Regions from separate parts of the Homo sapiens genome. Here region 1 is linked to region 2. Evidence: fine-mapped expression QTL. A gene starts in region 2. The other region holds a variant in brackets. All regions are shown on one strand. Distances are between the middles of the regions.

Evidence for each region. PIP is the estimated chance that this variant, and not a neighbour inherited with it, causes the effect.
Region 1: its variant is fine-mapped to the expression of CPNE7 in whole blood (Lepik 2017, PIP 0.95).

What each region holds. Positions count from the first base shown.
Region 1 is chr16:89,594,321-89,604,349 of GRCh38, forward strand. It overlaps CPNE7 (copine 7), which reads left to right. Exons shown (of 15, transcript NM_153636.3): 14 at 1,047-1,283; 15 at 2,164-2,926. The coding sequence ends at 2,301. Among named protein-coding and RNA genes, the nearest start is that of DPEP1, 14 kb to the right of the region's middle. RefSeq lists an enhancer at 5,214-6,127. The variant C/G (reference allele first, on the strand shown) is at 5,177.
Region 2 is chr16:89,571,663-89,581,691 of GRCh38, forward strand. It overlaps CPNE7 (copine 7), which reads left to right and starts at 4,096. Exons shown (of 15, transcript NM_153636.3): 1 at 4,096-4,409; 2 at 5,877-6,059. The coding sequence starts at 4,236. RefSeq lists silencers at 2,302-2,559, 3,020-3,249, 3,490-3,559.

The DNA.
Region 1 (10,029 bases), 23 kb after region 2:
TGCCTTGCAAACAGGTAATTCTTCCCACAGGTGTGGGGCTCAGAGAGGGGGAGATGGGGAGGGCACAAAAAGAGAGCCTCTTGGAGAAGGCGACTCTGAGTGGGGTCCTGGGGCCCCTGTTCGTTTCCAGGACACATCTGCCCTCAGTGGGACGGGCTCAGTCAAGGCCAGCCCAGGGGAGGCTGCTGTGGGCTCCCGCTCTGCTGCTCAGGCGAGCCCTGCTTCTCTTTATGTTTCCCGTTGTCCACAGTTTGGGCAAGATTATTGAGTGGGGTTTTTTTTAAACAATGGAAGTTGATTTTATTTGAAGTTCCATTCTGCCTTTTTTTTTTTTTTTTTTTTTTTTTTTTTGGAGACAGTCTCACTCTATCGCCAGGCTGAAGTGCAATGGCGCGATCTCAGCTCACTGCACCCTCTGCCTCCCAAGTTCAAGCGATTCTCATGCCTCAGCCTCCCGAATAGCTGGGATTACAGGCGCCCACCACCACGCCCAGCTAGTTTTTGTATTTTTAGTAGAGATGGGGTTTCACCATTTTGGCCAGGCTGGTCTCGAACTCCTGACCTCAGGTGATCCGCCCGCCTCGGCCTCCCAAAGTGCTGAGATTACAGGCGTGAACCACCGCGTCCGGCCAACACTCAGTCTTGTGGCAGCACAGCGGGCACCCTGGAGAGACTGGAGCAGGGTGTGTGGGCTGCAGGTCTGGCTCCTGGGATCGCAGATTTCTCCTCTGGCCTCAGACCTCCCATCCAGGCACTGTGAGCTCATCAGTAAAATGTAGACTTCGTAGCACCCCCTCCACAGCCCTCCGTGAGACTCGTGGAGATTTCCTGAGCTGGGCACAGGAGGCCCAGAGTGCCCGCCACGGAGGGGGCTCCTGACCCACTGTTGTTCGTGATGTTTGTGATGTAGGCATCACACTCTGAAGGCGGTTCTAGGAAGCTCTGACGCACGGAGGCACTCTGGGCTGTCTGGGGGCCCGTGGGTTGCAGGGCGCATGTGGGCCATGGCAGGTGTGGTGTTGCTGATGCCTTTCCTGTGCCCCCAGCAATACTACATCCTGCTGATCCTGACGGACGGCGTGGTGACCGACATGGCCGACACACGGGAGGCCATTGTGCGTGCCTCACGCCTGCCCATGTCCATCATCATCGTGGGCGTGGGCAACGCCGACTTCACCGACATGCAGGTCCTGGACGGCGACGACGGCGTCCTGCGCTCCCCACGGGGTGAGCCCGCGCTCCGGGACATCGTACAGTTCGTGCCCTTCCGGGAGCTCAAGAACGTGAGTGTCCTGGAGGGGCTCCGTCAAGGCCGGCTTGGGGGTCCCTGTTCATGTCACTGCCCAAGACCTTCCCAGGCCAGGCTCACGCCAGTGGATGTGGCAGGTCCCTTCTTGTGTCTGGGGGATCCTGGGCTGTTCCCCCCAGTCAAGAGCAGTATCTGAAGCCAGGACTTTGAGCACCTGAAACACCCTCCACCGTTTTGAAACTTGTCGAATCTACACAAAAGCAGAGAACAGCACAAGGGGCTCCTGGGATCCACCACGCGGCTTCCCCCGTTGCTGCCAACCTCTGCGACCCGGCGAGACACGCACAGCACACACGTGAGGTTCTACCCGCCGAGACACACACAGCACACACGTGAGGTTCTACCCGGTGAGACGCACAGCACACACGTGAGGTTCTACCAGGCAAGACACACATGTCACACATGAGGCCCTACAGCAAGACGTGCATGCCACATAGATGTGAAGTTCTACACAGCAAGACACCACAGACATGCATGAAGACACGGACACGTGACATTCTACGCAGTGAAACATGCATATTACAGACACATGAAGCTCTGCAGTGAGTCACATCACACAGACACGCTCAGGCTTTGCCGGGGAAGTGTGGGTGGGGCCTGGACCATGGAGGTGGCCTCGCCTCCCGTGTCAGCACTTTTCATCTCCGTGCTTGGGGGGCTGGAAAGACCCACGTGCAGCCTCATGTGGCCGACATCCTCAGCAAGTCTTGCCCGGCACCCAGGTGAGCCTCTGGTGGGGGTGGGTAGTCACCACTCGGCTCTGGAGGATGAGGCCTGGGCCATAATCCAGTTGCAGGGACGGATGATCTCCATCTCGAAGGTCCCAGAGGTAACTGCGTTGTCCCATCCTCCAGGCATCCCCTGCGGCGCTGGCCAAGTGCGTGCTGGCCGAGGTCCCGAAGCAGGTGGTGGAGTACTACAGCCACAGAGGCCTGCCCCCGAGAAGCCTGGGTGTCCCTGCCGGAGAGGCCAGCCCAGGCTGCACACCGTGAAGATGTGGAGGGCGTAGGGTGGGGGCAGTGAGGAATGGGTCCGTACAGCCTCTGTCTGCAACATGCTTGGGGTCCCTTAAGCTCCCTCCGACCTCCCAGAAGCCTCCAGTCCCCACCAGGCCCCACTCCCAGTCCTCCTGGGATCCTGCTGGCTTGGGCCCGGCTCTGGGGCCCCCAAGGCCGAAGGGTGACAAAATACAGGCCCCCATGCCTGGCCCTGCCTGAGCCAGGTGGGTGGAGGGAGGGAGATCATGAGGGACTTGGAGGGAGCTGGGAGTTCATCCACGGGAGACCCTGCCCCGATGAGAAGGGGCAGGGACTGGGGGCTCTGCTTTGCGTCTAACCTTTGTGGGGGAGGGCCAGCAAGGCAGTCCCCCCACGCCCGAGAAAGCCTGGGGGACCCAGACACCTGTCCCCACAGTCAAAGCCTGGGGACCCAGACATCCTGTCCCCACAGTCAGCCTCCTGTCCCTGCTGGTGCCCCCACACCCACCTACCCTGTGCTTTTTGCCGTCGGGCCTCTGCACCTGGGTCCATGGGGTCTGCGGGGTCTGCGGGGTCTGCCTGGCCTGTGGGTTCTGCCGGTGGGGCTTCAGGAGTAATAAAGTGTCACCCTATCCTTGTAGTTCTCTTGTGCCTTCAGTCCCTTCCCCAACCCCCCAGAGGGCTGGGCCTGGCTTCCAAAGTGCCCACATCTGAGGCAGGGGCTCTCCCAGGCCCAGCACACCAGGATCCTCCCTGGACTGAATGGGATGCGGGATGCACAGGCTGCCAGGGGCAGAGAGCGGGGATCCGCACCATGGCTGCCTCCACCCGCGAAGGAGCTCCACTCGGCTTCCTGGGACTCCCAGGCCTGAAACCCAGTGAGTGAGGACTGTGGACGTGATGCAGGGGTGCCAGGAGCCTCCCACATGGCCTGCACCGCAGGGAGCTGGGCTGGAGGGTGAAGCCTCCATGTGATGTTCGTGGAGCCGGGGCATCTCCCACCTGCTGGGACCTCCTCGCCCTGAGTTTGAGATTTCCCCTGAATGATCTTGCCTGAGAAAAACAAATTGTCCTAACCCTGAATCCAGGCCCACCCATCCCCACATCGGTCCATCCACCCACCCATCCGTCCACCCATCGCCCTGCCCACCCATCCGTCCACCCATCCCCCCGCCCACCCATCCGTCCACCCATCCCCCCGCCCACCCATCTGTCCACCCATCCCCCCGCCCACCCATCTGTCCACCCATCCGTCCATCCATCCCCCCACCCACCCATCTGTCCACCCATCCATCCACCCATCCGTCCACCCACCCATCCGTCCATCCATCCCCCACCCATCCGTCCACCCATCTGTCCACCTATCTGTCCACCCATCCGTCCACCCATCCGTCCACCCATCCCCCCACCCACCCGTCCGTCCATCCATCCCCCCACCCACCCATCCATCCACCCATCCCCCCACCCACCCATCCGTCCACCCATCCGTCCACCCATCCCCCCACCCATCCGTCCACCCATCCATCCACTCACCCATCCGTCCACTCACCCATCCGTCCACCCATTCCCCCGCCCACCCATCCATCCACCCATCTGTCCACCCGTCCATCCATCCACCCATCCGCCCACCCATCCCCCCGCCCATCCCCCCGCCCACCCATCCGTCCACCCATCCGCCCACCCGTCCGTCCACCCATCCGTCCACCCATCCCCCCACCCACCCATCTGTCCATCCATCCACTCTGGGGCCTATTTTTAGCTCTTGCTTCGTCCTCTGTTAAGCAGGGATCATGGGTATCGCCATGGTAACCTGGCCAGTCTGTGAATTTCAGAAGGATCAATGTTGGTCTCTTTGGGGATGGACAGGCCCAGAGATCACCCCTCCATCCACATCTGAGGCTTCAGGCCCTGAGCCGGTCGGGGGGCCTCAGGGGCTGGCCAGGCAGAGGGTGCGTGTCAGGGCCCTGTGCAGGTGTGGGGGGGTCTCAGGCTGGACAGAGGGTGAGTATCCGGGCCTTGTGCAGATCGGAGGTCTCAGGGGCTGGGCAGAGGGTGCGTGTCAGGGCCCTGTGCAGGTGTGGGGGGGTCTCAGGCTGGACAGAGGGTGAGTATCCGGGCCTTGTGCAGATCGGAGGTCTCAGGGGCTGGGCAGAGGGTGCGTGTCAGGGCCCTGTGCAGGTGTGGGGGGGTCTCAGGCTGGACAGAGGGTGAGTATCCGGGCCTTGTGCAGATCGGAGGTCTCAGGGGCTGGGCAGAGGGTGCGTGTCAGGGCCCTGTGCAGGTGTGGGGGGGTCTCAGGCTGGACAGAGGGTGAGTATCCGGGCCTTGTGCAGATCGGAGGTCTCAGGGGCTGGGCAGAGGGTGCGTGTCAGGGCCCTGTGCTGATCGGGGGTCTCGGGCTGGACAGAGGGTGTCAGGGCCCTGTGCAGGTGTGGGGGGGTCTCAGGCTGGACAGAGGGTGAGTATCAGGGCCCTGTGCTGATCGGGGGTCTCAGGGGCTGGGCAGAGGGTGCGTGTCAGGGCCCTGTGCTGATCGGGGGTCTCGGGCTGGACAGAGGGTGTCAGGGCCCTGTGCAGGTGTGGGGGGGTCTCAGGCTGGACAGAGGGTGAGTATCAGGGCCCTGTGCTGATCGGGGGTCTCGGGGGCTGGGCAGAGGTTGCGTGTCAGGGCCCTGTGCAGGTCAGGGGGTCTCGGGCTGGACAGAGAGTGAGTATCCGGGCCCTGTGCTGATTGGGGGTCTCAGGGGCTGGGCAGAGGGTGAGTATCGGGGCTGGGGCCCTGAGCGGGTCGGGGGTCTCAGGGGCTGGGACAGAGGGTGAGTGTTGGTGCCCTGTGCCACCTGCCTGTGGTTTTTGGGCCAGAAAGTGTCAGACGGTTTCTGGGCTGACT[C/G]AAAGTCGAGAGGTGTTGGTCCATTGAGATCTTAGCAGGAAGCAGGTGTGCCGAGGAGTCTACCTCAGAACAGGGTTGGGGCGGCCACAGTGGGGCGCCAGGGAGCTGACCTCAGACAGACAGGGATGGGCAGGTCACTCGGTGAGCTGGCGCCCTGGAGGGAGTGTGTCCCTTCCCAGAACTGCTGCCTTACAGGGATGTGGCCACTCCCAGACCCCTATGGAGCAAGCAGGGAGTGGCTGTGAGCACCCCAGCCCCCTCCTCCCACCCTCTCTTCTCCTGCCGTCCTCCCATGGCAGAAGGCAGCAGCCCTGGGGTCAGGCCAGTGGGCAGGCTGGGCCACCCTGGTCTCTGTGCTGCTGGGTGTCTGGGGTGTGTTTGAGACCATCGAGGGACAGCAGGGACAGGATGGCGTCTGCCAGCTCAGCTCTGAGAATGTGACTTTCGCCAGCAATTCCCAGCCTGAGAAAGCAGCCCAACGTTGCTCAGAGACGCACGCAATAATAATTTGACTTCTCCCCCTAACCCCGTGGGTCACTGGGATGAACACAGGATCCAGGCCTGGCCAGGCAGGGGCTGCTGCCTCCTGGCCACAGTGCTTGCTCCAGGGATGGACGTGCCCCAAGCTGGCCCGTGAGACTCAGTTCTGGGACCCCTTGTTTCTTCCTGGCTTGAGGAGCTGTGGACAGTGACCACTTAGCGGGGTCACATGGGCAGGGCCTGCCTGGGAAGGACACTACCCAGAGAGCTGGTGGCAGGTGCATGCTCAGGCCTGCTCCTGTCAGGCCTGCTCCTGAGCCGATACTTCCCATTGAGGAGCCATGAGCTCCCTTTCTGATTAGCTCAGGTGGGACTGGGTTTCTGTCATTTGCCACCCAAGGATCCTGCCCCAAAAGGATGACAGATGCTCCTTTTTCACAGACAAGAAAATCAGGGTTCAGCACAGTGAGGTGCCCTGCCCAAGGTCACACAGCCAGTCAGAAGCAGAGGTGCTAGCTTTGTGTAGCTGGTGTGCACACACACACAGAGCAACATGTATACACCTGTGCACACACACGCGCACCCACACATCCATGCACACACATGCACCCACACGCACCCACACATCCACGCACGCACACGTGCACCCACGCATCCATGCACAGACATGTGCATACATGCCTAACACATCCACACGGACACGTGCTTAGCCGGGACCTGCAGGCTCCAGGCTGAGTCCTAGGAATTGAGATGCTAGTTCTGCAGTTCCTGTAGGTCCACCTGTCAGGCATCTTCCTCCCCGGGGTGTGACATCCGGCTCTGAAACCCAGAGGGGCCCCTAGGGCAGGGCAGTCAGGGGTCCTGCCGGCCGGTGTGGAGACCCCCAGGTGAGACCAATGGGTTCCCTGAGTCTTCAGCCCCTCCTGACCTCGAATTAGAGCCTGACCCTTGCTGAGAATAGCCTGGGTATGACCTGCCTGGATGTGGACTTATTTCCCAAATAAGAAGCAGAAAGTGTGTAGCTGCCAGGACCCCACAGCAAGGGCCACCATGGGACCCAGTCCAGGGACTGCCTGCAGCAGGCGGAGGAGCTCCTCCTCGGGGGTGGATTTGAGATTTGGAAACAGCCTCAGTCAAGCTGGACACCAGCTCCCGCTGTGTGACCCTGGACAAGCCATCACAGTCTCAGTGAGTCAGAGCCTTGTTCCTTGCCTGTCACGCGGATATAGCAGCTTTGAAACATGGCTCTAGACTCCTCAGCCCCTTCCATTGGAAGTTGGTTTATGTTCCTTCTTCTTGAACCTAGGAAGACTTCGGTCCAATGTGGCTTATTTTTGTTTGTTTTTGAGATGGAGTCTCGCTCTGTCACCCGGGCTGGAGTGCAGCGGTGGGATCTCAGCTCACTGCAACCTCCGCCTCCCGGGTTCAAGTGATTCTCCTGCCTCAGCCTCCCAAGTAGCTGGGATTACAGGCGCGTGCCACCACACCTGGCTAATTTTTGTATTTTTTTTTTTTTTTTTGAGACGGAGTCTGGCTCTGTCGACCAGGCTGGAGTGCAGTGGTGCGATCTTGGCTCACTGCAAGCTCCGCCTCCCAGGTTCATGCCATTCTCCTGCCTCAGCCTCCCGAGTAGCTGGGACTACAGGCGCCCGCCACTATGCCCGGCTAATTTTTTGTATTTTTAGTAGAAACAGGGTTTCACCGTGTTAGCCAGGATGGTCTCGATCTCCTGACCTCGTGATCCACCCGCCTCAGCCTCCCAAAATGCTGGGATTACAGGCGTGAGCCACCGCACCCGGCCAATTTTTGTATTTTTATTTGTATTTTTAGTAGAGACAGGGTTTCACCATGTTGGCCAGGCTGGTCCTGACCTCAAGTGATCCACCCACCTCGGCCTCCCAAAGTGCTGGGATTACAGGCGTGAGCCACTGTGCCTGGCCCCCACGTGGATTCTGACACCCCACGGTAAGAATGCTGGGCGCTGCTCCCGTGCTCAGGAGATGTGGCTCCCGGGAAACTGACGATGCTGCGAGGAAGCTCAAGCGCCCGCACCCCAGCTGAGCTCCCGGCTGGCAGCCAGTGCCAGGGGCCACCATGCGAGTGCACCACCTCCAGCAGCTCCTGTAGCCCCGGGCAGGATGCCCTGCCTGCATCCTCACGAGAGGCCTGAGCCAAAGCCACACGGCAAATCCTCGTGTGGATTCCTGACCCAGGTCGTGGCCCGGGTTAATCCACGGTTGCTGTTCGAAGCCACTCGGTTTGGGCGTGATGAGTCGTAGGGCAGGAGGTAACAGACACATCCTCTTTCCCAGGGATCTTGTGAGGAATGAACGAGGGATGCAGGAGCCCCTGCTGGATAAATAGGTGTCAGTTTCACAAGGGGAGCCGGCTTCTCCTTATTCTCAGGAACCACCAATCACAGCTGCTGAGCATCCCCCACCCTGTCTTGCTGGCCACCGGCTGCCTGGGCCTCACAGGCTGAGGACGCGGGGTCAACCCCTGCCCACCCATGCGCGGAGTCGGATGAGGGCTCTGACTCGGTGGGTGGGGGGGGCAGCTGGAGGGAGTGGGAAGAGCAGCAGCTCAGCGTCCAGGCTGTTCTTTCTCCTGCTGCCGAGGCGAGTACAGGCAGGAAGTTGTGACTAAGTGCTTGTAATTGGTGCGGGGGCTGTGGCAGGGCTGTCAGACAGGAGTACCGCCGGCCCCTGGCACAGCAGGGCCGTGGGCGAAAGCTGTCTTCCTTGCCACCTCACGCCTCACCTGTCCCTGCACTGGGGCCCCACCCCCATCAGAGCCCACCCAGGACCCCTGTCCAGCTGGTGCCTCCCTCCCCTCACCCCATCAAGACCCACCACAGCCCAGGAGTACTGAGTATTCCAGTACTCACTGAGCTAAGTTCCCACAACAACCCCGCCTGGCTGACTGTTGTGAGTGCATCTCACTGACGGGACGGCCGACCTCAGAAAAACCCTAGGTGCACTGCTGGGGAGGCAGGGCAGGGTGGCGAGCTGGGTCTGGCCCCTGGGTTCCCAGCACTCAGCCTGGAGCCCCTAGGTCCTGGCTGAGCACATGTGTGTCTGTTAGGCATGTGTGCGTGCATGTGTGCATAGGCATGTGTGGGTGCATGGATGCACGGGTGCATATGTGTGCATGGGTGTATCTGTGTTGCTCTGTGTGTGCATAGGCATGTATGCATGTGTGCATGTGTGTGCATGCATGTGTGTGCATGGATGTATGGGTGCATACGTGTGCACAGGTGTAGATGTGTTGCCCTGTGCATGTGGAAGAGGCTGGAGTGGGGGTGTTGGTCCTCACTGCTTTACTGAAACATCTTTAGGAGCCCCAGTTGCACTGGGACTTGGCCACACTGCCAGCCCTCCCCATCCCAGGCAGTCAGCATCCAGACCCCAGGTGGAGCAAGTGACGTGCAAGGTCTTGGTGCCCCATTACTCCACCAGGACAGTACATTATCATCCCACTGTGCAGAGAAGCACTGGGGGCTGGAGGGAGGCACTGGGGGCTGGAGGGGGGCACTGGGGGCTGGAGGGGAGCCCTGGGGGCTGGAGGGAAAGCCCTGGGGGCTGGAGGGGAGCACTGGGGGCTGGAGGGGAAGCCCTGGGGGCTGGAGGGGAGCCCTGGAGGCTGGAGAGGAAGCCCTGGGGGCTGGAGGGGAGCCCTGGGGGCTGGAGGGAAAGCCCTGGGGGCTGGAGGGGAGCACTGGGGGCTGGAGGGGAAGCCCTGGGGGCTGGAGGGGACCCTGGGGCTGGAGGGGAAGCCCTGGGGGCTGGAGGGGAGCCCTGGAGGCTGGAGGGGAGCACTGGGGGCTGGAGGAAGCACTGGGGGCTGGAGGGGAGCACTGGAGGCTGGAGGGGAAGCCCTGGGCTGCAGAGGAGCATTGGGGGCTGGAGGGAAGCAGTGGGGGTTGGAGGGGAGCACTGAGGGTTGGAGGGGAGCACTGGGGGCTGGCAGGAAGCACTGGGGGCTGGAGGGGAGCACTGGGGGCTGGAGGGGAGCACTGGGGGTTGGAGGGGAGCATTGGGGGCTGGAGGGGAGCACTGGGGGTTGGAGGGGAGCACTGGAGGGGCTGGAGGGAAGCACTGGGGGCTGGAGGGGAGCACTGGAGGCTGGAGGGGAAGCCCTGGGGGCTGGAGGGGAGCCCTGGGGGCTGGAGGGAAGCACTGGGGGCTGGAGGGGAGCACTGGAGGGGCTGGAGGGAAGCACTGGGGGCTGGAGGGGGAGCCCTGGGGGCTGGAGGGGAGCACTGGGGGTGGGAGGGGAAGCCCTGGGGGCTGGAGGGGGTCACTGGGGGCTGGAGGGGAGCACTGGGGGCTGGAGGGGAGCACTGGGAGTTGGAGGGGAGCACTGGGAGTTGG
Region 2 (10,029 bases):
AAAGCCATCAAGCCACGCCGGGGGCTGGACGGGCGAAGGAAGGCGTGAGGGCTGGGTTCTGAGCGGGGTTCCAGTTCCACCCCAGGGCCTGGACGGGCCGAGGAAGGTGTGAGCGCTGGCTTCTGAGCTGGGTTCTGGGTTCCAGCTCCACCCCTGCTGTGTGGTCTCAGCCACCACAACGCCCTCTCTGAGCCATGTCTCCCGCCAGCAGTGGTGTCTCCTGCTGGGCAGAGATGCTGGGGGCTGGGATGGTCTGCTCCTGGCTGCATGCAGACAAGGGGCAGGAGGGATGGCGGCCCGGGGCTGCACGCGAGAACGCGCCTGGAGGAGAAGGGAGTCTCGAAGAAGGGGGTCTCATCCACACCCAGAAGACGGTGTTGGGGGAAGGAAGTGGAGGAAGGGGACCCCCTGGTTGGAACATATGTTGCCCTGGGGTGGCCTGTGTCTGCGCTTGTGTGTCTTGGGTGCCTGGCGTGTCTGCGTGTGGGCTGTCTCTCCATGAGTACGTGCACGTGTCTGCGGTATTTGGCACACGTGTGTGGCGTGTGCTCGTGCGTGCCTGCATGTGCTGAGTGTGGTGGAGGAGAAAGTCCCCCTAATCAGTCCCCAGGTCTCTGAGGCTGTAACAAGGTCAGCGAGGAACTGAGACTGGCCAGGTGTGTTGTCTCAGCCAACAGCCGGCGTGGCCGCCTCTGGGCATGGTTGATTTCTCAAATAAGATCAGCATCAGATCCTGCAGGAAGACAATCTGATCCAGACAGGTTGCAGATGTTCTAAGATAAAATAACCTTTCTTTAGGAGGAAAGAAAAGAAGAGGGTAGGTTTGCAACCAGATTAAAAAAAGCAGCACCCATCCGGACACGTGGAGAGCTGTTTCCTGTTAAACAATCCTGTTAGTAACCCCCACCCTCTGCAATTTCTTGTTTTGAGGCAACTTCTGGGACAATCTCTCCACATGAAGGGCAGGTTCGAGGACCCTGCATTCAGGGGTGGGGACCGAGCCCCGGACCGGTCCACTGGAGCACACCAGCTGTGTGCTCAGGACGGCCAGGGAGGAGGCCATGGACTCTGGACCTGGCTCAGGGACAAAGGGCTGTCAGAGTGTGGGGGAGAGCACTGGCTCCAGGGGATGTGCCTCAAGGCAGTAGCAGTGGGCCTGGGGTCTGCCGGGAACCTCTGGAGGCCCTGGACAGGTTTCCCTGCTCCCGGTTGGCCTCGTGGCCAGTGTTACTGAAATGGGAGATGGGGACTCTGTGACTGATGGAGATGACACCCTCGAGGCAGATCCAGGACCAGAGAGCAGCCACCAGAGCTGCGTTTCATTCGCTGATCCGCACTTCATTCATCCGCCTGGAGTTTGTTGTCTTAGACTCTGTGTTGGGACCTGTACTGGTGTTAACTCAGGCCTCGGTGGACTCCTGGTCCAGGGTGGATGAGGTCATGGGCAGCACAGCCCTGGACAGTGGAACTGATGTTGTGGACGTGTGGGCCGGGAGCCCAGGGAGGGATGTTGGGTGGCGGTTCAGACTGGGCTGGGCTTTGCAGGGTAGGTAGGGGTCGGGTGGTGGGAGAGGCTGAGGCAGAGGCACTTGGGCCTGAAAAGTATCTGAGTCCTGGATGCCAGGAAGCCACACAGGGCACTTGGGCACAGATATGTCATTGCTGCTCCTAAAATTGATCATGTGTAAGCCTCTGGATAGCCGTGGGGGTCGGCACTAATCAGAGGGTCTCATAGGTAACCCAGTGATGAGGGGATCCAGGCTAACCATTGAATGCAATATTGTCAATAAGAAAGAAAAAAGCAGGTTACAGAACAGAAACCATCTGCACCAACACCTATGGTGCTCCAACCGTGCCAGGCAGGGTCCCGGGCCTGGGCCGCGTGATGAGCCTGGCGTGGGGTCCCGGGCCTGGCCCGCGTGATGAGCCTGGCGTGCAGATACTGAAGAGTCCTCTCAAGTGTGGGAAGGGCTCTGAGAGTTAGGCACCTTTTTTTTTTTTTTGACAATTAAAAGAAATTTGCACATAAAAAAAAAAACCTGGAGGGTTAGATGTGGGGAGGTGATGGGCTGCTTTGGGGTCTGGAAATTTGTTTTTACTCCCTATCTGCATTGTCTAATATTTCAACAAGGAACACGGTTATTATTCCTGCGTGTATGTGTGTGGATCTCATTTCCTGTGTCTGGCCCTGCAGGGAAAGCTGGGAGGGGGAGCCTTGGAAAGATGGCTCCACATGGCCTGCGGGGTCCTTCCATTGTACCTGGGCCTACTGCGGGCTGATCCCTGAGCAGGGGCAGGCAGCGTCCAGACACCAGTGCCACAGGGGAATCGGCTTTTCCTTCTGTGGTTTCTCTCCATTAGAGCAGGCTGCAGTCAGGGCTGTCAGTCAGGAGACAGCAAGCCGGCCGAGGGCTGTGGCTGGAGATCCCAAATCGCCCTGGGCTTCAGAGACTCAAATTCCCAAACTCTGTGATCTTTCTTGGCTCCCTGCGTCCTTTGCTTGGAAGCCATCTGTTATTTTGCCAGGGTGCCGCTATGTGACAGCCAAGGGCTGAACTGGGGTGTTCCAGGTTTAAGCCGGGTACCCCTCAGACAGCCTGGTGGACCTCAGGCCTCACGCCACACTGCAGACGAGCAAACCTCAGGGCGGTGGTGAGGAGCTTTCGGGTGAGGTCAAGGCAGGAAGCGGAGCTTGGTCTGGGGAAAACTGTCCCAGGGCTGCTGGAACCGAGCGGGAGGCACGGCCTGCAGGAGCTGCCTGGGCGCCCGCACCCTTTGCCTGAATTTCGCATCCTTTTCCCATGGAAGTGGTTGGGGACCGAGGATGTGGCCTCCCGGCAGCCTGGAAGGCTGGGCTGAGGAGGACACAGGGCCGGGAAGGCCCAGACTGGTCCCTAGAGAGCGGGACTGGCCTCTGCCCACTGCGGGCTTCAGGGAGGAGGCGCAGAGGCCGGGGAGACAGCAGATGGGGCCCTGCAGGCCTCGCTGCGCCCTGACCTGTTCCTCGCCTCTTTAGCCAACCTCCCGGGAAGGCAGGAGCCGGTCTCCATGGCCTCTCCCGGCCCTGCCAGCCCCGTGGGGCCTCCCCGCCCTGCAGCCGCGCCCGGCGCCATCCCGCCGTCCGACCGCGAGGGGACGCCGCTGGCCGCGTTCCTCCTCCCAGGCCGAGGCTGCCTGTGCTGCCTCCCGCCGGCGGGGCCCTGAGCCTCCTCGCCCTGTCGGCGGCGGTCCCCTCTGACCGCAGGGTCTTCTTCTAGAGTCCTGATCGCCGAGGCTGAGCGGAGGCGCCCGGTCTTCCCGCCTCTTCAGTCTTAATGTCTCCCTCACCCTCGCCCCCCACCCCCGTGGCTTTTGGCGAGGTCCGTGCCCTATTTTTAGGCAGAAATCGGCAAAAAGAGTGGACTGCGAGGTGGTTTCTGTCCCCGCCGACGCCTCCTCTTCCGCTGCTCCCTCCCCCGGGACCGGTGATGGGGAAGGTGGGGGAGTGAGTTCAGGGCGGAGCGGGCCCACCCCCCACGGAACCCAGGCCTGCCCCGCCCCGCCCCGGCCTCGGGGGACTGGTGTGGACCGTGCCCCGCGGACCCCTCGGAATCAGACCGCGATTCAGCCCTCGGCCCCCCGGGACGGTCCTTCCAGCCCCAGACGAGCGCGGCGCCTGCACACAACAGGCGCCCACTAAATGCTTGTTGATGGAGGTGGCGAGTACCCGAAACCAGCGGAGCCTGGAAATGGGATCCTAGAGATCCGGGAAGGGCGCGGGGATCTGGTGCCAAGCTGGGGTCCCCCTTTTGCCTCCCCTAGTGTCTGCCTGGGTCCGAACCCGGGCTCAGGCCCCGCGCAGCTCGGAGCCTCCAGCCCGGAGCCGGTCCCTGGGCCGGGGATGCGCACAGCCGGGGAGGGCGCGCCCGACCTGACCCCAAAGCTATCAGTTGGGGGGGGGGTCCCCGGGGAATTAGAAGCTGTCTCCTCCCGGGCATCTCCGAGGGGCACCCCTGCCTCTGCCCCCTGCCCTCATTTCCCGCCGCGCCCCTCCCCGGCCCCGCCCCCCGGCCGCGCCCCACCCCCTGCAGTCCCCGCGCGGCGGCCGCCCGAGCCACGTGCGCCCGCGCCCGGCAGGCGTTCAGGGAAGCGCGGCCACGCCTGGGCCGGCCACCATTTCCCGGGCGCCGCGGCGGCGCCGACTCGCGGGCAGCGGCCCCTCAGTGCGCCCAGCCGGGCCCCCGAACGCCGGGAGCATGAGCGCGGGCTCGGAGCGCGGGGCGGCGGCAACCCCCGGGGGTTTGCCCGCGCCCTGCGCCTCGAAGGTGGAGCTGCGGCTCAGCTGCCGGCACCTGCTGGACCGCGACCCGCTCACCAAGTCCGACCCCAGCGTGGCGTTGCTGCAGCAGGCGCAGGGCCAGTGGGTGCAGGTAGGGCCGGGGCGTGGGAGGCCGAGAGGCCACCGGGCCGGGGCTGGCGCCGAGCTGGGGATGCGGAGACCAGAGCGGGCGCGCTGAGGCCAGTGGGGCGCAAGGCGGGGCCCCCCGGAGCTGGGGCTCAGCTCGGGGTCAGGGTTGGGGGTTACCAGGTCTGGGGGTGGGGTGTCCAGAGCTGTGGGGAGAGGCTGGGCTGGAGGAGGTGGCGGCGAGCGGGGTTCGGAGGAGAGAGGGGGGTGCCCCGCAGTGAGGGGTGCGGCCCAGGGTTCGGGGAGGGGGCCCCGGGCCAGAGTGAAGCGCCCAGGCATGAGGCGCGGGCAGGGGGCTCGACCAAGAGGCGCAAGGAGATTGAGGGGTGAGGGGCGCCGGCCGACGGGGGGCGGGAGGCTGGGCGGGAGCAGGCCGGCGAGGGAGCGCGCGCTGGGGTGCGGACCTCCAGGCGTCCGGGGCTCCCGCTCCAACGTGGGTCTCAAGCGAACCCGCTGTGATCGCGGTTGGGGTCCGAAGGGGCACGGGGCCGGCGCCAGACGGGCGCTTCCTCGGTCACCATCTCGCGTGAAACGCGTGGCTTCACCTCGAAAGGGCGAGAAACGCATGGCGCGAAGCCGCAGCGGGCGGAGGAGCCGGAACTCGAACCCCAGTCCGCGCGGGGCGCCAGCGCTTTTCCCCGGCGCAGGGGTCTCTCCAGGCTCCAGCGCGGGCCCGGGCGGCTGCTCGGGCGGTGGAAGGGACGCGGTCACCCGGTGGCGTCTCCGGTCATCCACCTTGAGGGTGAAGGGCCTGCCCCGCCCTCACCGCCTGTCCCCAGGGTTCCGGCTGCCCCCGGAGGCCCCGTGCCCGCCCCTCACAGCCTGAGCCCACCCTTCACATCCCGAGCCCACCATCCCCACGGAGGCCTCGTGCCCGCACCCTCAGAGCGTGAGCTGTACGGGTGGCCCATGTTTGCCCTTGGTTTGAGGTGCAGGATTTTTCAGGATTCTGAAATGAGTAGCCTACTGGCCCAGCTGGGTCTTGTCCTTACGGGGCAGTTGGACCAGGGAACTGCATGGGATGGGAGAGGCTGGTGAGCCCATGGTACCCCAGCCAGGAGGGAGGGCCCCCCTGTACCCTACGCCCCCTCCCCACTCAGCTGGTGCTGGGGAGCGGCCTGCACTTTAGGGCTGCCCAGCCCAGGGTGTGAATCTGATCTCGCCCCCGACTCAGCGTGTCATTCTCGTCCTCTGTGAGCCTCACTTTCCCCATCTGTGATCTGAGGGTGGAGCAGACAGTGGTGGCCAGGGGTGACCCCCAGGGTGGCCCTCGGGATTGTGGTCCCATGGACAGAGAGCAGGCAGGAGGTCTTCCCAGGGTATGAGTCCTCCTGAGGTACCTGGGCGTGGGTGAGCGGCAGAGGGGAGATGGAGGTCTGGAGCCCGGGGTGGAAGCCTCTGGAGTGGGGTCGGCTCACAGGTGCACTTGCAGGTGGGCAGAACCGAGGTGGTCCGGAGCAGCCTGCATCCCGTGTTCTCCAAGGTCTTCACGGTGGACTACTACTTCGAGGAGGTGCAGAGGCTGCGCTTTGAGGTGTACGACACGCATGGGCCCAGCGGCTTCAGCTGTCAGGAGGACGATTTCCTGGGGGGCATGGAGTGCACCCTGGGGCAGGTGGGTGCCCCGTCCCCTCGGAGGGAGGAGGACGGTTGGCGTGGGGGCCACAGCCGATTCAAGGCTGATGTACCAGCACCGCAGGGACCCTGCTGGGGTGGCCAACCTGGCTCTGCCCCCTCCTCAGCTCCTCCTGAACAGTCATTATTAGATTAAAATATACATGTAATTTTGAACTGGGTAATACATTCGTATGTTTTAAAGCCTGAAGGTATAAAAGGCTGTGGAGCGCCTCCATCCTGCCCCATCCAGCTGCTGCCAGGTCCCTGGACATTGTCCAGAGAGAGATTTTCACAGGAGCAAACCAGCCTATCACTTTTCCTCTTTTTTCTTTTTTTTCTTTTTCTTTTTTTTTTTTTTTGAGATGTAGTCTCGCTCTGTCACCCAGGCTGGAGTGCAGTGGCGTGATCTCGGCTCACTGCAACCTCCACCTCCTGGGTTCAAGCGATTCTCCTGCCTCAGCCTCCTGAGTAGCTGGGATTACAGGCACCCGCCACCACGCCCGGCTAATTTTTGTATTTTCAGTAGAGACGGGGTTTCACCATGTTGGTCAGGCTGCTCTTGAAATCCTGACCTCGTGATCCGCCTGCCTTGTCCTCCCAAAGTGCTGGGATTACAGGCGTGAGCCACGGTGCCCAGCCCACTTTTCCTCTTTTTTCAAAAATACACAAATTACGTTCCCTGTTCTGCATCCTGCGTTTTCACTTCCACGACGTGCAGCAGCCCCTCCATATCAGCACCTAAAAGTCTCCTGGTGGCCGGCCGTGGTGGCTCACACCTGTGATCCCAGCACTGTGGGAGGCCGAGGCGGGCAGATCACTTGAGGTCAGGAGTTCGAGACCAGCCTGGCCAACATGCTGAAACCTCATCTCTACAAAAAGTACAATAATTAGCCGGGCATGGTGGCATGTGCCTGTAATCCCAGCTACTCTGGAGGCTGAGGCAGGAGAATCGGTTGAACCCGGGAGGCAGAGGTTGCAGTGAGTGGAGATCTCACCACTGCACTCCAGCCTGAGTGACAGATTGAGACTCTGTCTCAAAAAAAAAAAAAAAAAAAGAAGCCTCCTTGTGAGCAGCAGGTCCTACGGTGGCCACTGCTTCCTTGGTGATGCTCTCTGGGTTACGGCCTCCACAGCCAGCCCAAAAGTGGCTTCTGCAAGTCGTGATGAGAGTGTCTGTTGATGTGCTGGGCCCTGCTGGACACTGCGCTAAGCACTTCCTGTGCTGCACGGAATCCTCACACCTTGCCAGGACGGGTCCTTCTTTTTTATTGAGGTAAAATTTACAGGCCGGGCACGGTGGCTCACGCCTGTAATCGCAGCACTTTGGAAGTCCGAGGTGGGGGGATCACGAGGTCAGGAGTTCGAGACCAGCCTGGCCAACATGATGAAACCCCATCTCTACTAAAAATAGAAAAGAAATTAGCCAGGCGTGGTGGTGCGTGCCTGTAGTCCCAGCTACTGGGGAGGCTGAGGCAGGAGAATCACTTGAACCTGGGAGGCAGAGGTTTCAGCGAGCCGAGATCGCGCCACTGCACACCAGCCCAGGTGACAGTGAGTCTTTGTCTCAAAAAAAAAAAAAAATTTTACGATAAAATGCATCAATCTTAAGGGTTGAGAATGACAAGTTTAGGTGACTGTACACAGCTGACCATCACCCGTCACACAGAACATCCCGTCACACGGAACATCTCACCTGTCACACAGAACATCCCTTCACCCCTCACACGGAACATCCTGTCACCTGCTGACACGGAACATCCGATCACCCGTCACACGGAACATCCCATCACACAGAACATCCCATCACTTGTCACATCTCACCCATGACACGGAACATCCCGTCAGCCATCACATCTCACCCGTCACACAGAACATCCCTTCACCCATCACACGGAACATCCCATCACCCATCACATCTCACCCGTCACATGGAACATCCCTTCACCCATCACATGGAACATCCCGTCATCTGCTCACATGGAACATCCCATCACCCATCACACGGAACATCCCATCACCCATCACACAGAACATCTCACCCATCACACGGAACATCCCGTCACCCGCTGACACGGAACATCTCACCCGTCACACGGAACATCCCACACCCATCACACGGAACATCTCACCCATCACACGGAACATCCCGTCACCTGCTGACACGGAACATCTCACCCATCACACGGAACATCCCGTCACCCGCTGACACAGAACATCTCACCCGTCACATGGAACATCCCGTCACCCGTCACACGGAACATCCCATCACACGGAACATCTCACCCATCACACGGAACATCCTGTCACCCGCTGACACGGAACATCTCACCCGTCACACGGAACATCCCATCACCTGCAGACACGGAACATCTCACCCATCACACAGAACATCCCGTCACCCGCTGACACAGAACATCTCACCCGTCACACGGAACATCCCGTCACCCGCTGACACAGAACATCTCACCCGTCACACGGAACATCCCGTCACCCGCTGACACGGAACATCTCCCCCATCACACGGAACATCCCATCACCTGCAGACACAGAACATCTCACCCATCACACGGAACATCCCGTCACCCGCTGACACAGAACATCTCACCCGTCACACGGAACATCCCATCACCCGTCACACGGAACATCCCATCACCCGTCACATGGAACATCCCATCACCCGTCACACGGAACATCCCATCACCCATCACACAGAACATCTCACCCATCACACGGAACATCTCACCCATCACACGGAACATCCCGTCACCCGCTGACACAGAACATCTCACCCGTCACACGGAACATCCCATCACCCGTCACATGGAACATCCCATCACCCATCACACGGAACATCTCACCCATCACACGGAACATCCCGTCACCCGCTGACACGGAACATCTCACCTGTCACACGGAACATCCCATCACCCGTCACATGGAACATCCCATCACCCATCACACGGAACATCTCACCTGTCACACGGAACATCCCGTCACCCGCTGACACAGAACATCTCACCCATCACACGGAACATCCCATCACCCGCTGACACAGAACATCTCACCCGTCACACGGAACATCCCGTCACCTGTAACACGGAACATCCCGTCACCCATCACACGGAACATCCCATCACCCGTCACACGGAACATGCCATCACCCGTCACACGGAACATCCCATCACCCGTCACATGGAACATCTCACCCATCACACGGAACATCCCGTCACCCGCTGACATGGAACATCTCACCCATCACACGGAACATCCCATCACCTGTCACACGGAACATCCCGTCACCCGTCACACGGAACATCCCGTAACCCATCACATGGAACATCCCGTCACCTGTCACACGGAACATCCCATCACCCGTCACATGGAACATCTCACCAATCACACAGAACATCTCACCCATCACATGGAACATCCCGTCACCCGTCACACGGAACATTCCGTCTCCCGCTGACACGGAATATCTGATCACCCATCACATGGAACATCCCATCACCCACTCACACGGAACATCCGATCACCCGTCACACGGAACATCCTGTCACCAGTCACACAGAACATCCCGTCACCCATCACACGGAACATCCCATCACCCGTCACACGGAACATCCCGTCACCCATCACACGGAACATCCCGTCACCCGCAGCTGCCCCTGCCCCTTTGTGGCCAGCTCCCCGCCTGGTTCGTCTCTTCTGGAATTCCACGTCCATGAATCACAGCGCGTGTTCTCCCTGCTGTGGAATTCTTTTACCCAACATAATGTCTGCGTGACTCATCCCCCTGCAGCCTCGGTCGGAGCTGGCGTGCCATCGATCCTGTTGTCCTCCCCATTTTTTAGATAAGGAAACTGAGAGTTAGGGAGGGCACAGATGGAAGAGGATGGCACGGACACAGAAATATGGACATGCTTTTTTTGTTTTTTTGAGTTGGGTTCTCACTCTGCCGCCCAGGC